7 linked regions of the Homo sapiens genome follow. The protein of the gene in region 1 interacts with the protein of each later gene in a pairwise test. Each region holds a gene or a part of one and is shown in the gene's direction. Other genes may lie near its edges. The genes, in order: GOLGA2, IGFN1, TTC23, MOS, ZNF250, GFAP and RHPN1.

What was found.
Region 2: the proteins of GOLGA2 (region 1) and IGFN1 interact in binary tests that used the Homo sapiens proteins (3 or more experiments, as listed by UniProt).
Region 3: the proteins of GOLGA2 (region 1) and TTC23 interact in binary tests that used the Homo sapiens proteins (3 or more experiments, as listed by UniProt).
Region 4: the proteins of GOLGA2 (region 1) and MOS interact in binary tests that used the Homo sapiens proteins (3 or more experiments, as listed by UniProt).
Region 5: the proteins of GOLGA2 (region 1) and ZNF250 interact in binary tests that used the Homo sapiens proteins (3 or more experiments, as listed by UniProt).
Region 6: the proteins of GOLGA2 (region 1) and GFAP interact in binary tests that used the Homo sapiens proteins (3 or more experiments, as listed by UniProt).
Region 7: the proteins of GOLGA2 (region 1) and RHPN1 interact in binary tests that used the Homo sapiens proteins (3 or more experiments, as listed by UniProt).

What each region holds. Positions count from the first base shown.
Region 1 is NC_000009.12:128,269,508-128,273,007, reverse strand, and holds part of GOLGA2 (golgin subfamily A member 2), read left to right. Parts: intron 1-142; coding exon 143-223; intron 224-3,500. UniProt on the Homo sapiens protein: Peripheral membrane component of the cis-Golgi stack that acts as a membrane skeleton that maintains the structure of the Golgi apparatus, and as a vesicle thether that facilitates vesicle fusion to the Golgi membrane.
Region 2 is NC_000001.11:201,189,566-201,193,623, forward strand, and holds the start of IGFN1 (immunoglobulin-like and fibronectin type III domain-containing protein 1), read left to right. Parts: upstream 1-1,258; 5' UTR 1,259-1,342; intron 1,343-3,681; 5' UTR 3,682-3,728; coding exon 3,729-3,735; intron 3,736-4,058.
Region 3 is NC_000015.10:99,159,082-99,162,581, reverse strand, and holds part of TTC23 (tetratricopeptide repeat protein 23), read left to right. Parts: intron 1-714; coding exon 715-842; intron 843-3,500. UniProt on the Homo sapiens protein: Participates positively in the ciliary Hedgehog (Hh) signaling.
Region 4 is NC_000008.11:56,112,442-56,115,118, reverse strand, and holds MOS (proto-oncogene serine/threonine-protein kinase mos), read left to right. Parts: upstream 1-1,136; coding exon 1,137-2,177; downstream 2,178-2,677.
Region 5 is NC_000008.11:144,884,454-144,887,953, reverse strand, and holds part of ZNF250 (zinc finger protein 250), read left to right. Parts: intron 1-1,051; coding exon 1,052-1,114; intron 1,115-3,500. UniProt on the Homo sapiens protein: May be involved in transcriptional regulation.
Region 6 is NC_000017.11:44,905,501-44,909,000, reverse strand, and holds part of GFAP (glial fibrillary acidic protein), read left to right. Parts: intron 1-851; coding exon 852-937; intron 938-1,612; coding exon 1,613-1,654; 3' UTR 1,655-3,500.
Region 7 is NC_000008.11:143,371,876-143,375,375, forward strand, and holds part of RHPN1 (rhophilin-1), read left to right. Parts: intron 1-1,856; exon of another isoform or gene 1,857-2,259; coding exon of another isoform or gene 2,260-2,418; exon of another isoform or gene 2,419-2,422; intron 2,423-3,500. UniProt on the Homo sapiens protein: Has no enzymatic activity. May serve as a target for Rho, and interact with some cytoskeletal component upon Rho binding or relay a Rho signal to other molecules.

The sequences.
Region 1 (3,500 bases):
GCCATGGTATTGATCTCCTCCACTCTTCTTATTTCATTTCCCTGAACCCACATCTTCCTCCTTCCCTGACTTTCTTGCCTCTCTCTAAGCCACTTCTACCTTTCTCCCCCTGCCCTTGTTTTTCCCTTTTCGCCTCCTGTAGATTCAGGACATTCTGAAGGTGCTGGTGTCCGACCTTAACCGTTCCAATGGGGTAGCGCTCCCCCCATTGGACAAGTGGAAGGTGAGGCAGTGCCGAGACCCCTCTCTGGCTTGCTCTCTCCAGCTGTGCATGCCCCTGAGGCTTCTCTGGTTTGGGGGATACTTTGCCTCTGGCTTATTTTATGTTGCTGCCATTAACCTTCCGCCTGTTTATGTCCGCTTCTTCACCTGCTTGATTGATTGGGTTTTTATTCTTCCCCCAAATCTTTTATCATCTTGGAGAAGGTGAGACATATCTTAAAGTTTAAAAGTTTAAAGGTAATTTGGGAATAACTTTTAGAGCAGGTGTGTGGGATTTGGGGCTTTTTTTTTTCTTCTTTTTTTTTCAGAGACGGAGTCTCACTGCCCAGGCTGGAGTGCAGTGGCACAATCTTGGCTCACTGCAACCTCTGCCTCCTGGGTTCAAGTGTTTCTCCTGCCTCAGCCTCCTGAGTAGCTGGGATTACAGGTGCCTGCCACCATGTCTGGCTCATTTTTGTATTTTTAGTAGAGATGGGGTTTCACCATGTTGGCCAGGCTGGTCTTGAACTCCTGACCTCAAGTGGTCCACCCACCTTGGCCTCCCAAAGTGCTGGGATTACAGGCGTGAGCCACTGCTCCCAGTCTGGGATTCTGGGATTTGGGCTTTTGAATGCCCAGTGTGGGTACTCTCAGACTAGGAGAGATGAAAAAAAAAAAACACAAAAAAACCAACAGACCTTTAGGTTTTACCCTAAAGGCAAAGATCAGTAAACCACCTAGAAGTTAGTGTTTTTTTTTTTTTTTTAAATTAATTCACTTTGGTTTAAGAGTAGGGAACAAAGGGTTAAAAGAAAATGAGTTCACATTATAGTTGGAAGGATTGAAGCTATTTTTTCAGAGGAACTAACTGTAAAAGTTGTGAGGTTAACCAAACAGATGAGTGACCAAGACGTTCTGCCCCTAATCTCTCCAAATGGACATTTAGCCATATTCATTGGGCTCTTGACAACAAAGGCACTTTGATAAATAAACAGTGGATAAAATAGATGAACAAGGTAGGCTGCACACCGAGGGAGGCAGACTCCTCTGAAGGAGGCAAGAGAGAATTTTGGAACATTCCAAATGCTCAGCTCGGGGGGAGGTTGGTTCCAAATGGACTCCAGGCTGGAGAAGGTGGCATTTGAAGCTGGCTTGAAGATTAAAGGTGGGTAACATTAATCCATATGGGGAGTGGGGGAGGCAGGGGGAGCGGTGAGGCCGTGGCCAGAGTGTGAACTCACAGAGCACCTTTCAGGAACACAGGGAGCCTGGTGGGGGGCAGGGCATGGAGGTACACAGGGCTGGGAGACAACCTCCTCTGGCTGTGATTTGGCATTTCTTCCATCTCTAACTCACCTGGGGGACTCCTTCCTGCCAAGCCAGAGGAGCAGGGCACGAATAGAGCCTGATCCTGTTGGAGATGGGTATGGGGAGAGGGACTGAGACAGAGCAGCCTTGGCTGCTGTTAGAGAGTTGTCCAGTCTCATACCTGTTACCCTCCAGTTGATCAGGTCTGTCCAGGTGCTGTGACTCACCTTGCCAGCTCAGAGGAGACGCTGAGTGGTACGGCTGGGGAGCACAGGCTTAGAGGTGACCTGCAGCCAAAAGCATTTGGCTTTTGCTCTGCCAATGGTCCAGTGGATTAGGGGGTCTTCAGCCTGTTTCCTAATGCTCTGAGATTCTGTGCCAGCCCAGGTCCCTCTATTCTGGAAACAAAGGCCTAGATCCCCGTATTTCCTTCTTGCTGTTTTGTTTTTGTTTTTGAGAAAGAGTCTTGCTCTTTCTCCTGGAGTGCAGTGGTGTGATCTTGGCTCACTGCAACCTCCCCCTCCCGGGTTCAAGTGATTTTCATGCCTCAGCCTCCCAAGTAGCTGGGATTACAGATGTTGCACCATCACGCCCGGCCATTTTTTTTGTATTTTTAATAGAGATGGGGTCTTGCCATGTTGCTCAGGCTGGTTTCGAACTCCTGGCCTCAAGTGATTCACCTGCCTTGGCCTCCCAAAGTGCTGAGATTACATGTGTGAGCCACCATGCCCAGCCCCTTGCTGTTTTTATACCTTCTCTATATCCGTAACTGTTTCCAATGTAGGTTTTGTTTTTTTTTAATTTCTCATTTTTATTACCATGTAAGTTTTCTACTCCAGGAATGCAGGCCTGTGATCGTAGTATCCTGAGCGGAGCTGATAACATTTCCAGAAGTAGGGAATAATGGAGAGAGAAAAAATATCTTAATGGGATGGGACATTTTGAGGAGAGTAGGCTTTTTTAAAAACTCCATCTTGGCTACAAGACTTAAAATAATGAAATAACTTGGTTGCTCACAAAATAATCATGCTATGTGTGTCAGAAAGTCCTCAGAAAAATGCTTTTTCAGCCAAGTGCAGTAGCTCATGCCTGTAATCCCAGCACTTTGGGAGACTGAGGAGGGTGGATCACCTGAGGTCAGGAGTTCGAGAGCAGCCTGGCCAACATGGTGAAACCCCATCTCTACTAAAAATACAAAAATTAGCTGGGCGTGGTAGCGTGCACCTATAATCCCAGCTGCTTGGGAGGCTGAAGCAGGAGAATCTCGAACTCAGGAGGCGGAGGTTGCAGTGAGTGGAGATCTCGCCACTACACTCCAGCCTGGGCGACAGAGTGAGACTCCCATCTCAAAAAAAAAAAAAAAAAAAAATTCCCTTCCTCTGAGCATTCTTGTGTCTAATCCTAGAGATCAGTGGGAACCGAAGATGCCAGGAGGGCCCTAAAGCCTAGCAGGGTCCATTGCTAGGAGTGCCAGCCTTCCCTCAAGGCTAATGCCTGGCCAGCAACTGAACCCTTGCTCTGACCTATTAGATTCAGTTGTAGGCATTGTCAAGGAAACACCAGGTTCCATGGTCACAGTAAACTTGCAAAGATGCAAAGGCAGCTTGGCTCATCTTCAGTTCCACCAGCCTCTGCAGCACTTGCTCTAAGGAGGGAAGCAGATTTGGGTTTTCAGAAGCCAGGGCTGAAGGGTCCAGTGAGCGCGCAGTCCTTTCCCTGGAGAGAGGTGTAGTCACTTCTCCCAGACCCAGCTTCCGTGGCCAGGCCCTGGCTCCCTGGTGTTTTTCTCTTGTCCAGCTTAGCTGGTCAGCCAGCTTTTTCCACTGTCTGCCCATCTGGCTTGTCAGATATTAGAAGATCTCTAGAACCAGAGGCTTGGGCGAAGAGTAAGGTCAGAGCCTGGAGAGAGGCTGGGTGGGGCTCTGATCAAGCAGGTAGGTCCAGTTGGGGGCAAGGGAGAGGCTCCACATGACCCCAAGTTCTGAATCCTA
Region 2 (4,058 bases), on another chromosome or scaffold:
GCTCTCCAAGGTCCAGCCCTCCCCTCACACTCTCCATTGTCTCCTTTGGAGCCCCTACATCTACCTGCCCCATTAGACTGTGAACTTCATGATGGGAGGGCCCTGTCACTTGCTTACCTTTGTATTCCTAGGGCTTAACACAGTGCCAGAGCCAGGGCTCAACCCACGGTAGGTGTTCAACACATGTTTGTTGAACAAATGAAAGACCAGCCCTGACACTCAGAAACACACAGGGAGGACACACAAATGTATGTGTGTGTGCATGCATGCACACACATACACGTACTTGCGCAGAAGAGGTCAAACACCTCCCCTCTCGGAGCACATCCAGAGGTAGCGCCTGTAGAAATTGGCAAGATGCTAATCAACACATGTAAATATTCAGTGTCCTCCCCTGGATGCAAACATTCACCCCATTTCCCTTCTACTTCACCTGAATCCTCAATCAAGCCTCGCTTATGGGTGGCAACAAAGCAGTTCTCTGTCCTTAAGGAGAGAGAAGGTGGCTCTTTCAAAGCACACCAGGTGGCCTTATCTCCTGGGCCTCACCTGCCCTCCACTCTCCTTAAGAAAATCTGTTACCAGCCATTGTATTTCCAATTTCCACTTGCCATCCATCTGTCCGACCAAAAACCCAACCATCTGCCCTGCCGACTTCGCCCCCAACCCTGCTGGTCAGGTCACCCCTTCTGTTCCTTGAAAAGCTCCTGAGCAAGCTCACCTTCTCCAGCAGGCCTGCTGACTACACAGTTCCCAGGGTCTCCTCCTTCCTGGTCACTCTCGGTGGACTCTGTGTCTGTGACTCCGTTAATGGCTGCCTTCCCTCCCACTCCCAAAGTTTGCTGCCTGTTTGATACCACTTGGAGGTGTGATTCCCAAGAGGGCAGTGGCTTATGTATCTGTGTGACTTATGGTGTCAAAGGTCCCAAGGGACCAGCTTAGCTGAAAAGTTAAGGGTTTGGATGATGAAAATGTCCTTGCTAAAAAGGGTCGTATAAATGAGGCTTCATGGGGCAAATTTACACTAAGCCAGTCTGGTTAAGAGCTTAAAGCTCTGCAAAGCGAGGAGTTGGATGGACTGATGTCACAGGACCCTTCCATCTCTGACCTCCTCTGAGCTAGAATGTTAGCCCTGGGGGCCTTGCCCTGCCAAGCCTGGACTGGAGGAGAAGGAGGAGGCGGGGTGAGTGGGAGGGGCAGAGGGAGCAGAGGCGCCTGCAGCAACCGACACCTGCTCCAGCCCTGCCTGTCCACTACCAGTCAATCCAGAGCCTCAGCAAGCAGCAGCTGGAAACGGGGAAGAGGGAGCAGACAGGAAGCGGGAGGTCAGCTGTACACCCAGGTAAGTGGGTGCTCACACCTGGCTGCCCACCCGGGCCAGGGTAGGGCCAGGATGGAGACACTAGCCTGCTGTCCAGCTTTTCTACGCAGGAAGGGGCAGGCAGTGGGCAGGATGTCTGCCTGGGGAACATTCCCTGGCTGGCGGATCACACGCTGGGGTGCACCTGTATCCCCTCTAGGTTACTCCAGGATATCTGGAGGAGAGAATTTCAGTGTGTCCTGTCTGGGCATTTCTGTCCTGGCTCTAATTTTCTGGACACGGCTTGACTTTGGGTGTGATACGATGACCAGATTAAAAATATCACTAGCAGTCCAGAATAAGGACCTCGGGCTGGGACTTGTTATATTTTGGTTAGTATCATGGTCAAAGCAGTTGAGAGAACTCCATTTGGCTCTTCCTGCCTCAATTTCTACCAGTTGAGAGGTAGCAGGGACCAACTGGAGGTAGCAGGGACCTGGATGTGCAGGATGGATCCGGGGAGGGTAGGGAAAAAGGATGGGGAGCCATAGGTCCTGGAGAGGGGGCAGGGAGGGACTGTCCCAGGATCCAGTGCTGAGAGTGTTGTTGGGACAGCTGAAGTGAGGACACAAACTGCTGTTTCCTTCTGGGAAGAACTGGAGTTCTTCTCAAATGTGGGAATGAATTATGGAGGAGAGAATTCATTTCCTTTCTCATCCCTTCCAACTGAGACTACATCCCTCTAGTCTCCAATCCAACAGATCTCTTTCCCTGTGTCATTGACTTTGTACCAAATCTGGCTTATTCTAAAAGAGAGTGGAGCTCCAGAAGTGGATGCTTAACGTCACATCCCTAAGTTCCCCCAAGAGCTTTGCTTCTTTTGCCCTCCTCTGCTGGGAGCTGTAGGCAGGAGGCTGGAGGGAGAAGAGTGGTATCAGCGTCATCCTTCTTCATGTGTGACCAATAGCTGAGTAACAGGATGATAGCTGCTCGTGGTGATGATGTGGGTGACGATGGGGATGATGACTCAGATAGCTGTGTTGAACTCAAACTACTCCAGTGTGGGGGTCACCGACTGGCACCAGTGCACTTGCATCTACCAGGAGGCTGCACTGAGGGGTGGGTGGGATGGGGGCCCTTGCAGCCCTCCCCCTGGCCGTGTCCAGCTGGGTCCTCATCCGTTGGTGGCTGCCTTCCCTCCCACCCTTCCTCGTGACTCCCTTCGGCGTAGTGCCTGTGGCACCCGTGACCACTCCAGAACGCAGTTGGCGTACCATGGCATTCCAGCACGCTAGGGTGCAGCGGCTGGGCTGGCGAGGGGCTGCCAGGGGTCAGAAGTGCCAGTGGGTGGCCGTTGCGAAATGGAATGATCTCCATGGGAGAGAGGAATTTGCTCTGTCATGTGTGATTCTATATTAATGATAAGGCTCTTTGGGCAGAAAATGGAGTCCCCAAAATGGAACCGCTTGGCCATGGGCCAATCGCACAGAGGGTGGGACTGCTGGAAGATTCTTTCAAGACATCCCCCCTCCCTGATTTATGGCTCTCATCCCACCCCAGACCCAACCCCCTTCCTCTCCTGTGTGGGACTCCCCATTGGCCATAACAGATGGATGCAATTAAGAGGAAATCAGGAGAGATGGTGGTGGTGAGAGAATGGAAAATACTCCTATTCACCTGACACTATAATTCACTGGCTTCTGAGGGGAGCAGATGGATTTATGGGGATCCTACAGGCCTGGGCCAAGAAGAGCTTAAGAGCAGCAAATTTGAGGCCTCTCCCCTGCAGACCTTGTGACTGGAAGGATTCTAGATTGGTGGAGCGTGGGAAGTAGAGGGCTTCAGTGTCCTGCCAGAAAATCTCAGAGTTGGGGGAAGAGCCAGGAGGCCCAAAGAATGTCCTTGGAGAATTCCCATTCCAAAGCCAATGGGGCAAGCTGAAAGGAGCCTGAATCCTTTCACAGCTGAAATCCTTTCACAGCTGAATCCTTACACAGCTGAAAGGATCCTGAATGGGTCTGATTTCCTCAGGTTTGGGAGGGTTGTGTCTCATGTTCTGGGCAGGGTAATCAGGTCTGGGGTCCCACCAGGAGGCCAGGCCACCAGCACAGTGTGCAGGCTCAGCTTATGGTTCCCTTTACCTGGGAATGTTACCAACTGGGTAGCATGCTACCCACTCCCTGGTCTCTGGGAAATTGGTTTTGCTGGGGACAGGGAATTGCAGGAAACTAATCAGTGCCATTAGTGGGTTAGAAAAGCTCTTGGGGGCAGCAGCTTTTTCCAGCTCCCACCCCAGACATTGGCTGATGCACTGATGGTGTGGGAGGGGTGGGGTGAGACCAGCCTGGATTTCTCAAAAGCAATTCCATTTCTGTTCTCAGGGTAATAGAACTTCTACCCTCAGAGGAGTCAAAGAGGAGGCAGAACTATGGCAGGTAAGAGAAGAACTAATCTCCCCTCCCCAGCCCTCCCTGGCGATCCTTACCAGGACAGAGAGGAGAGAAGTGGTAGGGATCAGAGATTTCTGGGAACTTGCCCATCTTGTTGTTGTTTTTTTTCTCCTTATTTTATTTTATTTTATTTTTATTGTTGTTGGCTTTTTTTGAGACAGAATCTCACTCTGTTGCCCAGGCTGGAGTACAGTGACGCGATCTCAGCTCACTGCAACCTCCACCTCCCAGGTTCAAGTGATTCTCCCACCTCAGCCTCCTGAGTAGCTAGGATTACAGGTGCCTGCCACCATGCCTGGCTAATTTTT
Region 3 (3,500 bases), on another chromosome or scaffold:
TAGTCCTGCTCAGGCTTAGAAAACCCCAGTACTAGTAGATGGACCTTTTTTCTAATATGCTTACGGGCCATTCAACCTCAGCTCCCGCTCACTTCTCTGGCTTTTAGTTCTCTCGTCATTTTCCATACCTGAGGTTTTCTTTTTCTTGCATTCAAGATTGGCATGCATTTAAAAATATTTGTGTTATATTATAACCAGTATGTTGAAGTATTTGGAATGATTGGGGTTTTGAATGATTTCTTCCCTCAGCGGCATGTCAGCAATATTTTCCAGATTTTTCATGTTTTAGAAATATGTACCAAGATTATACTCCAAATCCATCAAAATAAGTGAACTTTCAGAGTCCTACCCTCAGTAAAGTCATAGTTACCCTATAACTAAAGTTATAGGAAGAATTAGTGGTTGATCAACCTGAAAACTTACCAGTGTGTTCAGATGTGGGGCATAGTTTCTTCTTTTGCAGTAACTTTTCTTTATGTATCACCGGGAAAGCTAGATGTATGAAAATTAAAGAAAGTAAATTACGGTATCCTTCAAGACCTAAATCCTTTCTAATGAAACAGGCAGATTAATGGGCAAAGGACAGTCTTAACTGTTTTTTCTTGTCCCAATACCTCTTTCCAAATAGCTCAACACTGCTAACAGTATATTTATTCTGTTTCCATTTCAAATCTGTGAGCAGTTTTCAAAGTTATGATAAATGCTTTTCTTCAGATGTAGCTGAGCAGTATTTTCAAGAGAGCATGGCTCATCTTAAGGATTCTGAAGGGATGGGAAGAACCAAATTTCTTTCAATTCAAGATGAATTTTGCCATTTTCTACAAATGACTGGACAAAAAGAGGTAAGTGAGTTTGGATCACAATTGTCTAGTTATTCACAGTTGATATCCAAAGGGCAACTCCTTTACTCTGCAAGCATCCATTAAGCATCTACTGTGTGCAAAGCATGTGCCAGTCTCTAGAGGGACACATAAATAAGGCTAGGGCTCCTTTGGGGCAGCTTCCAGAGATACTTGCTCTTAGAAGCTGGGAGACTTTATGAGAATATAGATTGTCATGCCCACCTACAAAAGATCCTAAAGAAATAGTGGACAGGCCCTGCTTATTGAAGTCCTGCAGATCTGGCTGGAATAGTGTGGCAGTTAGTGTGTCTAATCCCTCTCTCCTCAGTTTGGGTAATGAATGGAGTTTGCATGTCTAAGGAAAACTATACGGTGCAGAAGTTACAGCTCAGTTGTTTAGTATTGATTCGTACAAGCGTGATTTACGTGGCTTATGAAAATAGAGCAAGACCCAGACCTTATATTCATTGGGAATTAAACCCTTGGGAATGCATTCCCTGCAAAGCCTAACATACCATTGCTTTATGTTTTTATATATGTGTGTGTGTGTACATATTAATACATATATATATATACAATCGCCCACAGATAGGAACAATTATATATATGTGTGTGCATATATATGTATATATGTATGTGTGCATGTATGCCCACACCCTCTTCTCAGCGCACCTAAGTCCTGTTTACTTTTCACTCCTCTCCGTTAAGTTTTTTTTTTTTTTTTTTTGAGACAGAGTCTTGCTCTGTCACCCAAGCTGGAGTGCAGTGGTGCAATCTCAGCTCACTGCAACCTCCGCCTCCTGGGTTCAAGCAATTTTCTGCCTCAGCCCCCCGAGTAGCTGGGATTACAGGCCCCCGCCACCATGCCCAGCTAATTTTTTTGTATTTTTAGTAGAGTTGGGGTTTCACCATTTGGCTAGGCTGATCTTGAACTCCTGACCCCGTGATCCGCCCGCCTCAGCCTCCCAAAGTGCTGGGATTACAGGCGTGAGCCACTGCGCCCGGCCTCTGTTAAGCTTTTCTTATCAGAGGTTAACGCCATCTCAATTTCCTAGAAAACCATACATACATACATATATACACACTCACACACATATATATATAGTTGTTCCTCAGTATCTGTGGGGGATTGGTTCCAGAGCCCCCAAGGATATCAAACTCCAAGGATGCTCAAGCCCTTGTACAAAATGGTGTCACATTTGTATATAACCTAGACAAAGCCTCCTGAATACTTTATATCATCTCTAGATTGCTTATAATACCTAATACAATGTAAATGCTATGGTAGTAGTTGTTACACTGTATTTTTTATTTGTATTGTTTTTATTGTTGTATTGTTATTTTTATTGTTTTTTCCCATATAATTTTTGATCTATGGATATGGAGGGCTGACTATGTATTTTTTTCAACTCTAACCTATCATGGCAAATCTTGGAAATGAAAAACTTTATTTCCCTTACCGTCTGTAGACCTCCTCCCCCACAGCTCTTTTCTCATCCTTAATCCCCCCTCCACCCCCGCCTTCTGTCAGCTAGGGAACACGGGCTTTTATGCCGATATACCTATGTTTCTCAGGCCAAAGTAGGGCCACAATCACCAGGACAAATTGGAGTTTCAGGATGTTTCTCAGTCACCCAACCCCAGGGAGAGAGAGGGGCCTTCCAGGGGCCTCAGACTCCCTCCCCATTCCCCCCTCACATCTCTAGAAGACAAGGGGAGTGCTCAGGTCAGAATAATGGGGTAGGTTTGCCCCCTCATGCCCCACTCCATCTAGTTCCTCAGCCATTTTTTCCTCCAAAATAGATCTTGAATGCATCCATTGTTTTCCATCTTTAGTCCTGCCACTCATCATCTCTTGCCTGGACCGCTCTAACAAGTTCCTATCTCTCAGCTGCTTTTTCCATGCTTGCCCTCTTCTAATCCACTCAGAATAAGGAAGCCATGGTGATGTTTCCAAAAAGCAGATCTGACCACTGAACACTCACTTGTAAAAGCCAGTCCACTGGCTCCCCGATGCCCTCAGGATAAACCAGAATCCTGACATGGCCCACAGTACCGTCCACGACCTGGACTCCACTGACATTTCCAGGCTCATTTTTGCCTCCTCTCCCTGATCCATGTTCCTGCCACACTGGCCTTTTCTAATTCCCACTTCCGGGCAGTGCCAGCTTCTGTTTCCTCCTCCTGGAAGGCCCTTCCTCATTCATCTCCAGGCCAATGCTAACCCATTCTTCATTTCTTACCAGCTTCTCTGATTCCTCTCCCCAGGCTTCATTAGATACTCCCCATTATTCTTCCTTAGAGAATCCATTTGATGTCATCAAATATTTGTAAGTATATATTCATGTGGATATTTAACATCTATCTTGCAACTAGACCGAACCTGTGAAAGCAGAGACCCTCTTGCCTGTGGTGAGGAGTGATGAGCAGAGAGGTGGATGCATGTTTGGCCACAGGCCAGCTGACTGTTCTGACTCCTGTGGGCCATGCATCAGTTCCCCTGTACTGCCTGGCTTCCCACCATAGTGTCTTGCTGAGTCAGCCAATGCTCAGTGTCACTGATGCTATGCCTCACTGCCCTTGCCCAAGTCACCCAGATCAGTGTTGATCAAAAGATGCACCTCACTCTCCTAAGCTGCCCTCGAAGATTTTAGCAAA
Region 4 (2,677 bases), on another chromosome or scaffold:
AATTCTTGGCCTCAAGTGGCCCTTCCACCTTAGCCTCCCAAAGCACTGGTATTATAGGCATAACTCACTGCACTTGGTAGAAAATTAATTTTCATTATAAAAATCAGAAAGAAAGATCTTATTGTCTGATGGCCAATACCCTGAATTTCATTCCAACTTCTGGTTTTCTACATTATATGTAGGTACCAGTGATTTTGTGCCATTTTTATTTCTTCAGATTTTTCCTCTTCTACAATTCTCCCATATGTGTTATTATTTGAAGCCCTGATCACAGCTCTGAATCATTTCTATTCTTTTGTCTCCCCCAACTCTGGTTCAAAACTTCGGTAACTCATTTGCTACGAAGTCTAGAATCTCTCTTGCAAGTGAGCTGACCGGTTGGGCCAAATCGCCTTGGAAGGGAAGGATTGTTAGGAAGTCAGTATGTTGCTAAGATGTCTTGCTAATTTGCTGTGTAAGCTGCATAGAGTGTCAGGGGATTCTCCTTTCCACTGATGAATTTAGGTGTGTGTTATGACCTGTATCAGTGATTCTATTTGGATTGATTAAGGTTGCAATTTTTTATCCATATGAATGTTGCACCTAGTTTTTCCCTGTAATTGGTTAAACAAATGTCTGCTGTTTGCATTTTAACTCTTAGCCAATACCTGCTGGAAGTGATTTAATGCAGCTGGAGAATGACACTAACAATCATTACAGCCTGCAAAGTGTGAAACAATTTCATTGTGCTTTGTGGTCTCTTTAGTCTGAGGACTGATAATGTGCAGCGGATGAGACTTGAAAAAAACGTATTTTATTATAATTTAAGAAATAATGTAAAAGAGGGGTGAGTTCTGAGGCAGCTCCATGCTGTTTGTCTGGCATGAGCTTGTTTTTATAAGAATTCACTTCAAGTGTGGAAGGGAAATGCTTTCATCTGAAAGGGATAGCTGTGCTTCATTCCGGTTTCTCCCTCCATCTGATAAAAACTCTTGCTGAGTGACAGCACAGATGTAGCTCATTTGGAACAAGTGAAGGAAAAGGAGAAAAGGGATGAGGTGGAGCGAAGGAGTAGTCAGTCATGTTTCCAAAGTCCCGCGGTTTCCCCTAGTCTCTTCATTCACTCCAGCGGCCCTGGTGTCCCCCTGCAAAGTGCGATGCCCTCGCCCCTGGCCCTACGCCCCTACCTCCGGAGCGAGTTTTCCCCATCGGTGGACGCGCGGCCCTGCAGCAGTCCCTCAGAGCTACCTGCGAAGCTGCTTCTGGGGGCCACTCTTCCTCGGGCCCCGCGGCTGCCGCGCCGGCTGGCCTGGTGCTCCATTGACTGGGAGCAGGTGTGCTTGCTGCAGAGGCTGGGAGCTGGAGGGTTTGGCTCGGTGTACAAGGCGACTTACCGCGGTGTTCCTGTGGCCATAAAGCAAGTGAACAAGTGCACCAAGAACCGACTAGCATCTCGGCGGAGTTTCTGGGCTGAGCTCAACGTAGCAAGGCTGCGCCACGATAACATCGTGCGCGTGGTGGCTGCCAGCACGCGCACGCCCGCAGGGTCCAATAGCCTAGGGACCATCATCATGGAGTTCGGTGGCAACGTCACTTTACACCAAGTCATCTATGGCGCCGCCGGCCACCCTGAGGGGGACGCAGGGGAGCCTCACTGCCGCACTGGAGGACAGTTAAGTTTGGGAAAGTGTCTCAAGTACTCACTAGATGTTGTGAACGGCCTGCTCTTCCTCCACTCGCAAAGCATTGTGCACTTGGACCTGAAGCCCGCGAACATCTTGATCAGTGAGCAGGATGTCTGTAAAATTAGTGACTTCGGTTGCTCTGAGAAGTTGGAAGATCTGCTGTGCTTCCAGACACCCTCTTACCCTCTAGGAGGCACATACACCCACCGCGCCCCGGAGCTCCTGAAAGGAGAGGGCGTGACGCCTAAAGCCGACATTTATTCCTTTGCCATCACTCTCTGGCAAATGACTACCAAGCAGGCGCCGTATTCGGGGGAGCGGCAGCACATACTGTACGCGGTGGTGGCCTACGACCTGCGCCCGTCCCTCTCCGCTGCCGTCTTCGAGGACTCGCTCCCCGGGCAGCGCCTTGGGGACGTCATCCAGCGCTGCTGGAGACCCAGCGCGGCGCAGAGGCCGAGCGCGCGGCTGCTTTTGGTGGATCTCACCTCTTTGAAAGCTGAACTCGGCTGACTGAAAACCTGGTCAAGATAAGTTTTTGTCTGATTCTATTTGTTTTTAAAGGAAGTGGAGATGTCGAAGAAAACATATTTGTAGGATGGAGTTTTAGAAAATAAAGTTACTAAAAACTCCTTTAGTCTCCAGTGCTTTTTCTAGGACACATTAGCAAAGCTACAAGTCTAGTACCTGTTGTCTCAGTACTGTTAGTAACTAATCTTATTCATATAGTCATGTGCTTTGCTTTCCATTGCTAGTATTTCATTTATTTAAATTTGTTATTGATAAAAGTTTGTCCAAAATAGAACTCCACTGCAGAAATGTCAAAATTTTCTATAAATCCATATATATCCCATACCTACCACATAAATTCCAACTATTAATGGTGTAGTTGCTCCCACACCAAATCAGTAAAAACTTTTAAAAAAATAAGTAATGCTTTCCTACTACTCCCCCCAGTAAAACTTCTTGTTTGTAATGACCTTCACTCATAAAAGTCATACACTGAGGTACAT
Region 5 (3,500 bases), on another chromosome or scaffold:
CTTGAAAGCTCCTCCTTATTTCTAAAGTAGCTTTATGTGGATAGGGCACCAGGTATTACAGTCTACCTCTTACTGGCCTGCAAAATCAGATATCCTCAGAGGAACAAGGTACATGCCAGCCTTAGAGGAATTTAATTTTCCAGTGACTATACAAGAAGACACATCATCATGTCTTGGAAATCTTGCATAGAACTTCTGCTTACTGACTGCAGCTGTAGGAGACAAGAAAACACAGGAGGGCATTTTGCTGCCACTGCCAAACCAGTCCTGGGCTCCCTTGTGTCCAGCTATGTACTCGCCTGATGGAGAGCTTAAACTGCCTTTGAGCGCCCTTTGATTTGACACCACAGAGACTGTGAAATTCTCTGGGAGCATGGCTGGTTGGAGATGAGAAGTTTTTTCATGGAAGCACCTGGTCCCCTCACCTCTAACACAGGCCACAGAGGACGATGGGACTGAGTTTTAGATTACTGATGTGCATAGAAACAGAAGCCACCTGCCACAACCTGGATCACTGCCACTAGCATCAGAGCAAGCGAGGAGTAGATATGCCTTTGTCTTGTCCTGGCAGTTCCTCAGGATGGATAAGTGTGTGCACCTGCCCAGCCCTGACCCTGCTGTTTGTAACTCAGTAAATTACATGTTGTAATAGCAACGAAAGGATTTTCCACTCTTTTTTTTTTTTTTTTTTTTTTTTTTTTGAGAGACGGAGTTTCACTCTGTCCCCCAGGCTGGAGTGCAGTAGTGTGATCTCGGCTCACTGCAACTTCTTGTCTCCGGGGTTCAAGCGATTCTCCTGCCTCAGCTTCCCTAGTAGTGGGGACTACAGGCATGCACCACCATGTCCAGCTAATTTTTGTATTTTTTAGTAGAGACGGGGTTTCACTATATGTTGGCCAGGCTGGTCTCAAACTTCTGACCTCAAGTGATCCACTCACCTTGGCCTCCCAAAGTGCTGGGATTACAGACGTGAGCCACCATGCCCGGCCAGGATTTTCCACTCTTGAAGGGAGTATTTTGTTGTCACTTCAACTCGCTGTTTTTTTTCCAGACAACCTCAAATATGACCACACTACAGCCTGTACACAACAAGACAGTTTATCTTGTCCATGGGGTAAGTGTATGCCTGATCTTTTTAATTCAGTACAATCTCTGAAGGTGTTAACACTAATGTTTTACAAGAATGTAGAGGCGACTCGGTGCTATGAAGCGTGTTAAACAACTCACACAATTGCTACAAAACACCAGGGAGGGGCTTTTTGTGTTTTTAATTTTTAAAACATTTTTCCTTTTCTTGTGAGCCATAGTAGGCCTAGAGAGATTACTGGGTTTTTATAATTAAACATTTATTTCGGTGAAATCATTTTGTTTCCTTTTATTTGTTCCGTCATGCTTAAAACATACTTCCCTACTTTATACTTAACAACCAAAACCATTATTCTAAAAGCAAGTGACTCTTGGCTGAAGTCCAGCTTCTGCACAGTATGGATGCAAGGTGCAGGCAAGTTTGGCCTTCACAGCAACTTGATTCTGTCTCACAAGCAGTCATATGATGCTTTCGTGCCATGGATGATTGAGCGAGTAGTCTCTTATGCAGTTAGTTTAGTGTGTGTGTGTGTTTTCTTTTTTTCAGGCTGGAGTGCAGTGTAGAGACAGAGTCTTGCTGTGTTGCCCAAGCTGGTCTCAAACTCCTGGGCTCAAGCAATCCTCCTGCCTCAGCCTCCCAACATGCTGGGATTACCGGCATGAGCCACTGTGCCTGGCCTGTGTTTTTATTATTAAAGACATCTTGTCTATCTTGTTACCCTGGCATCAGGTCAGAAGCCGCCCATTCAGGAAACTTTTTTTTTTTTTTTTTAGACAGGCTCTCACTCTGTTGCCCAGGCTGGAGTGCAGTGGCATAATCACGGCTCACCAGTCTCAACCTCCTGGACTCAAGCAATCCTCCCACAACAGCTTCCCGAGAGTAGCTATAACCACAGGTGTACACCACCATGCCCAGCTAATTTTTGTAGAGACGGGGTTTCACCATGTTGCGCAAGCTGGTCTCAAACTCCTGGCCTCAAGTGATCCTCCCACCTTGCCCTCCCGAAGTGCTGGGATTACAGACATGAGCCACCACACCGGGTGAAACTTCAGACAATAGAAGTAATACTTTTCAGTGTAAATGAGTAACTATTTCTTTAGCCTATAGGCTTTTATTCCATGAAGATGAGGCTTATACATTAAAAAAAGAAAGAACTAAAACTTCTATCAGTTTAAAAAACACATAGCCAGCTTAGGCAAGATACTGAGACCCCACACTACAAAATAAAATTAAAAATTAGCCAGACATGATGGTGCATTCCTGTAATCCCAGCCACATGGAGGCTGAGACAGGAGGATTCCTTGAGCCCAGGAGGTTGAGGTTGCAGTAAGCCATGATCACACCACTGCACTCCAGCCTGGGTGATAGAGTGAGACCCTGTCTCAAAAAAAAACCCACATAGAGTGACTTTCTAAAATGAGATATGTTAAAAATTGTATTAAACTGGGCCGGGGGTGGTGGCTCATGCCTGTAATCTCAGCACTTTGGGAGGCCGAGGCAGATGGACCACCTGAGGTCAGGAGTTTGAAACCAAGCTGGCCAACATGGTGAAACCCCATCTCTACTAAAAATACAAAAAATTATCTGGGCATGGTGGCACATGCCTGTAATCCCAGCTACTTGGGAGGCTGAGGCAGGAGAATCGCTTGAACCTGGGAGGCAGAGGTTGCGGTGAGCTGAGATCGTGCCATTGCACTCCAGCCTGGGCAACAAGAACGAAACTCTGTCTCAAAAAAATTGTATTAAACTGAAGACAGTGAATTTAAATTTTTTTATTAAAAAAACTGTTAAATTCTCACTGTTTCAATTTGTCAATACACTTAATAAATTCCTCTGAATAGAATAAAAAGACGCAGAATTACCCAAAAAGAAAAGTAGGCACAAATTTCTGCATAGATTAGGAAAACCAAAGGGCCAATAAATAAGAAAACTGCTCAGCCTCATTATTCATCAGTAAAGTGGAAATCAAAACCACTGTGACATGATGTTACACCTTCAGAATGGAAAAAATGGAAAGATCTGACAATATAACATGTGGGTGAGGATGCAGGGCAGCTAATAGGGATGTAAATTCACATAGCCACTTTGGAAAAGTTTGGCATTATCCAATGAAATTGAAAACATGATCACATTCTGAGAGAATGGAGGTAAAAAAAATGAAAAAAAAAATCGAAAACATGAATTCCTATGTTCACCACTTCCCACTCTTGCATATGTATACAGCAAGGACATTTGTGTGTAAGCACCAGGAAACATAGGAGAATCTTCACAGAAGCATGCTTCATGATTTAAAAAAACATTTGAAAAGAATTCAGGACCGGGCGCCGTGGCTCCTGCCTGTAATCCCAGCACTTTGGGAGGCCGAGGTGGGTAGATCACGAAGTCAGGAGTTTGAGGCCATCCTGGCCAACAT
Region 6 (3,500 bases), on another chromosome or scaffold:
GACTCCCGAGTAAGGGGATTACAGGTGCGAGCCACCACACCTGGCTAATCTTTCTTTTTCTTTCTTTCTTTCTTTCTTCCTTCCTTCCTTCCTTCCTTCCTTTCTCTTTCCTGCTTGCTTGCTTGCTTGCTTGCCTGCTTTCGACGGAGTCTTACTCTGTTGCTCAGGCTGGAGTGCAGTGGCACGATCGCAGCTTACTGCAACCTCCGCCTCCCAGGTTCAAGTGATTCTCCTCTCTCAGCCTCCTGAGTAGCTGGGACTACAGGCACCTGTCACCATGCCTGACTAATTTTTGTATTTTTAGTAGAGACAGGGTTTCACCATATTAGTCAGGCTGGTCTCAAACTCCTGACCTCAGGCGATCCACCTGCCTCGGCCTCCCAAAGTGCTGGGATTACAGGTGTGAGCCACCATGCCTGGCCTATTTTTTGTATTTTTAGTAGAGGTTTCACTATGTTGGCCAGGCTGGTCTCGAACTCCTGGCGTCAGGTGATCCACCTGCCTCAGCCTCCCAAAATGATGGCATTATAGGTGTGAGCCACCGCACCCCTCCTGGTCTCCTGATTTCAATACCGTGCTGGGTTTTCAGAAAGCCAGGTGCCAGGCCAGGGCTTGCAGAGGGGCTGAAATGAAGCCAGGCCAGAAGACAGAGCAGCCAGGACTCTGGCAGCAGCACTATTGGGATTTGGGGGCTCTCCAGCCCGTTTGGAAGAGCCTAGGCTCTCTCTGCTCGGTTGCATAGGTTCTCATACTCATGATGGGGAGGGGGGTGCGATGGGGAAGCCGGGCATGGGAGAGGATGGCTCATGCCCTGAAAGTCCATGAGAGGCCTCCTCTCCCCACATCTGCAGAAACCAGCCTGGACACCAAGTCTGTGTCAGAAGGCCACCTCAAGAGGAACATCGTGGTGAAGACCGTGGAGATGCGGGATGGAGAGGTAAGGAGGGATTTGGGCCCAGTCAGGCTCTGGCTGGCCCCAGGGATTCTCAAGGCCAGGCCATGGAGGAAAGCCTGGGGCTGGCACATAGAAGGTTCCCAGCAACTCCCAGTAGCTCCCCAGGGAATTCTGGAGGAGAGCAAGGAAACTGAATGTAATTCCGTTTCCTCAGTCCCTCCATAGGCTGTTCTAAGGGGAGCCTTGGTACCAAAGCCACTAGATGGGATCCTAATACACACTCTCTCTTTCTCACCCTCAAACTCGGGGGCCTTGCTTGCCAGGGAGAGAAAGAGAATTAAAGTTAGTAGCTTTCACTTCCAACTCTAGCAGACACAGTTGGGGATGGGGAGGGCTTTCCATTTCCAGCTTGGTAAAAGGAAACTACCAGGGGAATGGGAAGAGGGGATTTGGCGTATCCGCCACGCCACTCCAACCACAGTGGGAGCTCATCTTACTCCAGCAGCTTACCACTCGCCAGGCATGACGCTAAATGCTTTCCCAGTGTTATCTCACCACCCCCTCTGTCCACCACGCAAGGCAGCTGTGGTTACTATCAAGAAAAGTAAGACCTGGGAAGTCGGGGACTTCCCAAGGTTACACAGCCTCGTGGTGGTGGACCTGGGGTCTGTGTGAACTCCTAACTGTTGCACTGTGCACGTTCCCTGTCCCCTGCAGGTCATTAAGGAGTCCAAGCAGGAGCACAAGGATGTGATGTGAGGCAGGACCCACCTGGTGGCCTCTGCCCCGTCTCATGAGGGGCCCGAGCAGAAGCAGGATAGTTGCTCCGCCTCTGCTGGCACATTTCCCCAGACCTGAGCTCCCCACCACCCCAGCTGCTCCCCTCCCTCCTCTGTCCCTAGGTCAGCTTGCTGCCCTAGGCTCCGTCAGTATCAGGCCTGCCAGACGGCACCCACCCAGCACCCAGCAACTCCAACTAACAAGAAACTCACCCCCAAGGGGCAGTCTGGAGGGGCATGGCCAGCAGCTTGCGTTAGAATGAGGAGGAAGGAGAGAAGGGGAGGAGGGCGGGGGGCACCTACTACATCGCCCTCCACATCCCTGATTCCTGTTGTTATGGAAACTGTTGCCAGAGATGGAGGTTCTCTCGGAGTATCTGGGAACTGTGCCTTTGAGTTTCCTCAGGCTGCTGGAGGAAAACTGAGACTCAGACAGGAAAGGGAAGGCCCCACAGACAAGGTAGCCCTGGCCAGAGGCTTGTTTTGTCTTTTGGTTTTTATGAGGTGGGATATCCCTATGCTGCCTAGGCTGACCTTGAACTCCTGGGCTCAAGCAGTCTACCCACCTCAGCCTCCTGTGTAGCTGGGATTATAGATTGGAGCCACCATGCCCAGCTCAGAGGGTTGTTCTCCTAGACTGACCCTGATCAGTCTAAGATGGGTGGGGACGTCCTGCCACCTGGGGCAGTCACCTGCCCAGATCCCAGAAGGACCTCCTGAGCGATGACTCAAGTGTCTCAGTCCACCTGAGCTGCCATCCAGGGATGCCATCTGTGGGCACGCTGTGGGCAGGTGGGAGCTTGATTCTCAGCACTTGGGGGATCTGTTGTGTACGTGGAGAGGGATGAGGTGCTGGGAGGGATAGAGGGGGGCTGCCTGGCCCCCAGCTGTGGGTACAGAGAGGTCAAGCCCAGGAGGACTGCCCCGTGCAGACTGGAGGGGACGCTGGTAGAGATGGAGGAGGAGGCAATTGGGATGGCGCTAGGCATACAAGTAGGGGTTGTGGGTGACCAGTTGCACTTGGCCTCTGGATTGTGGGAATTAAGGAAGTGACTCATCCTCTTGAAGATGCTGAAACAGGAGAGAAAGGGGATGTATCCATGGGGGCAGGGCATGACTTTGTCCCATTTCTAAAGGCCTCTTCCTTGCTGTGTCATACCAGGCCGCCCCAGCCTCTGAGCCCCTGGGACTGCTGCTTCTTAACCCCAGTAAGCCACTGCCACACGTCTGACCCTCTCCACCCCATAGTGACCGGCTGCTTTTCCCTAAGCCAAGGGCCTCTTGCGGTCCCTTCTTACTCACACACAAAATGTACCCAGTATTCTAGGTAGTGCCCTATTTTACAATTGTAAAACTGAGGCACGAGCAAAGTGAAGACACTGGCTCATATTCCTGCAGCCTGGAGGCCGGGTGCTCAGGGCTGACACGTCCACCCCAGTGCACCCACTCTGCTTTGACTGAGCAGACTGGTGAGCAGACTGGTGGGATCTGTGCCCAGAGATGGGACTGGGAGGGCCCACTTCAGGGTTCTCCTCTCCCCTCTAAGGCCGAAGAAGGGTCCTTCCCTCTCCCCAAGACTTGGTGTCCTTTCCCTCCACTCCTTCCTGCCACCTGCTGCTGCTGCTGCTGCTAATCTTCAGGGCACTGCTGCTGCCTTTAGTCGCTGAGGAAAAATAAAGACAAATGCTGCGCCCTTCCCCAGAGTGGACTCTGATCTGTTCATGAGAGGGCGGGACTGGGGCCAAGATGTAGCCTTTGACAAGACCAACTCATTTCTTATTACTGATCATCTCTGGGGCCCATGCCCTCACCAAATTCCACCCGCA
Region 7 (3,500 bases), on another chromosome or scaffold:
TCTATGCCCCTTCCACTGGGCTCAACCTTCAACCCAGTGTGGAAAGTGGGGCATGGGCCGCCCACCTCCAAGGTCTACCCAGCCTCAAAGGTCCGGCTCGGGTCTGCTCCTCCGCCTGTAGGCCGGGAAGTCACTTGGCCTGCAGGGAGCACTGCGGGTAGGGAGGCCGAGGAATGGACCAGGCCCACAGCAGGTGCCTGTGGGGCTCCAAGGGGCCAGGCTCCCCGCAGCTCTCCTGGGGCCAGGAGGGGAGCAGGGACCTGGCTGGGTGTCTGATGCCCGTCGCACAGCCAGAGCCCTTAAAGCTGCTGGAGCCTTGCAGCGGGGCCTTTGCGGGGAGGGGGTGTAGCTGCGGTGGGTGGCACGGGGGTCTCCTAGGTACTGGGCAGAGGCCCTCGAGGTGGTAGCGCCGGTGGGAAAGGTAGGGATGGGAGGCGGGGGTGGGCGGGCCTCAGGTTCAGGGAGCTTCTCAGATCTGAGGCGCCCATGCCCCTCTCCCACCTGTGGGCCTCTCCAGCCCGAGTCCCTGAAGCAGCTCTGGAGGGAATTTCTTTTCTGGAGGAGGCGGGAGTGAGAAACGGGAGCAGGGTGAGGGTTCCCAAGTGCACATCGGCCCGTCCGCTGCTGGGTGGTGTCCACGGGGGCAGGGCTGGGCTGGGGGAGGCCAGGGTCCTGGGCCGGCACACCCTCCTTCCGGCTGCCTGTGTCCCTCCCTCCAGCTGCCTGTGTCCATCCCTCCGGCCGCCTGTGTCCCTCCCTCCGGCCCCTAAGCGCCAACTCATCTTCAGTTCAGGGACCTCCGTCAGGCTCCCTCACCCCAGCACTCAGCAGGAGGCTGCCGGCCTGGGTGTCCAGGGGATGGTGCGGGTGTCCAGCAGACAGTACAGGGGTTTGGGGGATGGTACAGGTGTCTGGGGGATGGCGTGGGTGTCCAGCAGATGGCGCAGGGGTTTGGGGGATGGCACAGGTGTCTGGGGGACAATGCGGGGGTTTGGGGGATGGCGTGGGTTCCAGGGGATGGTGCAGGGGCTTGGGGGATGGTGTGGGTTCCAGGGGACGGTGTGGGGGTTTGGGGATGGCGCGGGTTCCAGGGGACGGTGTGGGGGTTTGGGGATGGCGCGGGTTCCAGGGGATGGTGTGGGGGTTTGGGGATGGCGTGGGTTCCAGGGGACGGTGCGGGGGTTTGGGGATGGCGTGGGTTCCAGGGGACGGTGCGGGGGCTTGGGGGATGGTGTGGGTTCCAGGGGACGGTGTGGGGGTTTGGGGATGGCGTGGGTTCCAGGGGATGGTGCAGGGGCTTGGGGGATGGCGTGGGTTCCAGGGGATGGTGCGGGGGCTTGGGGGATGGTGTGGGTTCCAGGGGACGGTGTGGGGGTTTGGGGATGGCGCGGGTTCCAGGGGATGGTGTGGGGGTTTGGGGATGGCGTGGGTTCCAGGGGACGGTGTGGGGGTTTGGGGATGGCGCGGGTTCCAGGGGACGGGGCGGGGGCTTGGGGGATGGTGTGGGTTCCAGGGGACGGTGTGGGGGTTTGGGGATGGCGTGGGTTCCAGGGGACGGTGTGGGGGTTTGGGGATGGCGCGGGTTCCAGGGGACGGTGTGGGGGTTTGGGGATGGCGCGGGTTCCAGGGGACGGGGCGGGGGCTTGGGGGATGGTGTGGGTTCCAGGGGACGGGGCGGGGATTTGGGGGATGGCGTGGGTTCCAGGGGACGGTGTGGGGGTTTGGGGATGGCGCGGGTTCCAGGGGACGGGGCGGGGATTTGGGGGATGGTGTGGGTTCCAGGGGACGGTGTGGGGGTTTGGGGATGGCGCGGGTTCCAGGGGACGGGGCGGGGATTTGGGGGATGGCGTGGGTTCCAGGGGACGGTGCCTCATCCTCCAGTCTCTGTCTCTGCCTTCCCATGGCCACCTCCATGTGACTGTGTTCAAATTCCCCACCTCGTATAAGGACCCTTGTCACTGCGATTAAGGACCCCCTACTCCAGGGTGGCCTCATCTTAACTCATTATATCTGCAAAGACCCTATTTCTAGAAAAATTGCAGTCACAGGTACTGGGAGTCAGGACTTGAACCTGTCTTTTGTGGGGACACAATTCACCCATAATAGATGGTCACCCGCTCAGCTGGCTGCTGTGATTTTGGGGGGCTGGACGAGCAGGCCTTCTGTCTAGGAAATCAAACCTTTCTTGTATAATGGGAATAAACTAATTAAAATGCACACAAAGATCTCGTTCACATTAGCAAAAAGAACTCTCTCCAGATATCTAGGAGAAAACCCAGGAAAACACGTGTGAGCTCTTTACGGGGAAGACGGGAAGGCCTGAGAGACGTGTGTGCGTGGAGAGGGTGTCGGGTCCACAGAGGGGAAGACCCAGTGCGTGTGCACGTTGGCCCCATGAATCCGCAGCTTCATGCAGTGGTAGGTCAGTTTCATGGTGGCAAGATTCACCTTCAGACGCCACAAGGTCCTGGGGAAGAAGAGGTCCTGTCTCCCGACAAGGGCGGGAAGCAGTCCCAGGAGCCACCAGAGGCCTTGTCTTGCTGCTGACTGGCAGAAATGGCCAGGTTGGCCACGCCTGACTCAGACCAGGCTCGCCCCAGGGCTGGGTGGGAGTCAGTGTCCCTGAGCAGTGAGCCCTGAGCAGCACTGTGGGTCTCAAAGCATGGAAGGAGTGGGTGCTGGAGAGGCAAGCCAGCCAGCCCACGCCTGGGAGCCCACCCAGGGGACAGCCACAGGTAGCTGCAAATAATCTTGTCCGGGTGGAGACCCAGGCATTCCCACATGGCCACGGGGAAGAGTGGGGGTTGGGAGGCCATGGTGAGAGGGAGGGACACGTGAGGATCATGTGGGCAGGACCCCAACACCACAAGGGTGGGGTGGGCTGAGGCATGAAACTGGATCTCCCTAGAGTGAAATGTAAGCTCCAGCACGCTGGCACCACTGACGACACAGGAGCCATCAAAGTCCAGAAGGGGCCCCGCTGGGCACGCCCCACTCTTTCGCCATGGCTGGTGCTGGGCAGGGCCGCGGGGCTGCAGTCTGGGTGCAAGGCTCAGAGTCATTTCTCTGTGGATAGGGAGGGCACGGGTGTGCGTTCGCTTCGAGAACCATTCCCAAAGTCAGACCGCAGCCTCTGCACCAACCATCGGGGGCCAGTGGCCGCCCCCAGAGCCTCAGGGACCCTGTCCTTTGAGCCCACGCCTAAACCCACATGGGAATGATTTGGAGGCGTGGGTGAGTTGGATGGGAAAAAAATTGGGAGGGGCAAGGGGGGGATCCAGAATGAAATCCAGAAGCGCAGAAGGAAGGCTGTGAGGAGCAGTGGGCCGCCTCCTGCAGGGCTCCCGGAGCCCCTACTTGTCCAGGCTGCCTGGTGAGACCCTGGCTTCTGGTGTCCTTGGCAGGTGCCAGCCTCCCCCGCTGACCCCCATCACGAGTCAGCAGCTTACCCCACCGACCACGTCCTTCTGCATTGACTGCCTCCTGTCCTGCTCTGGCCA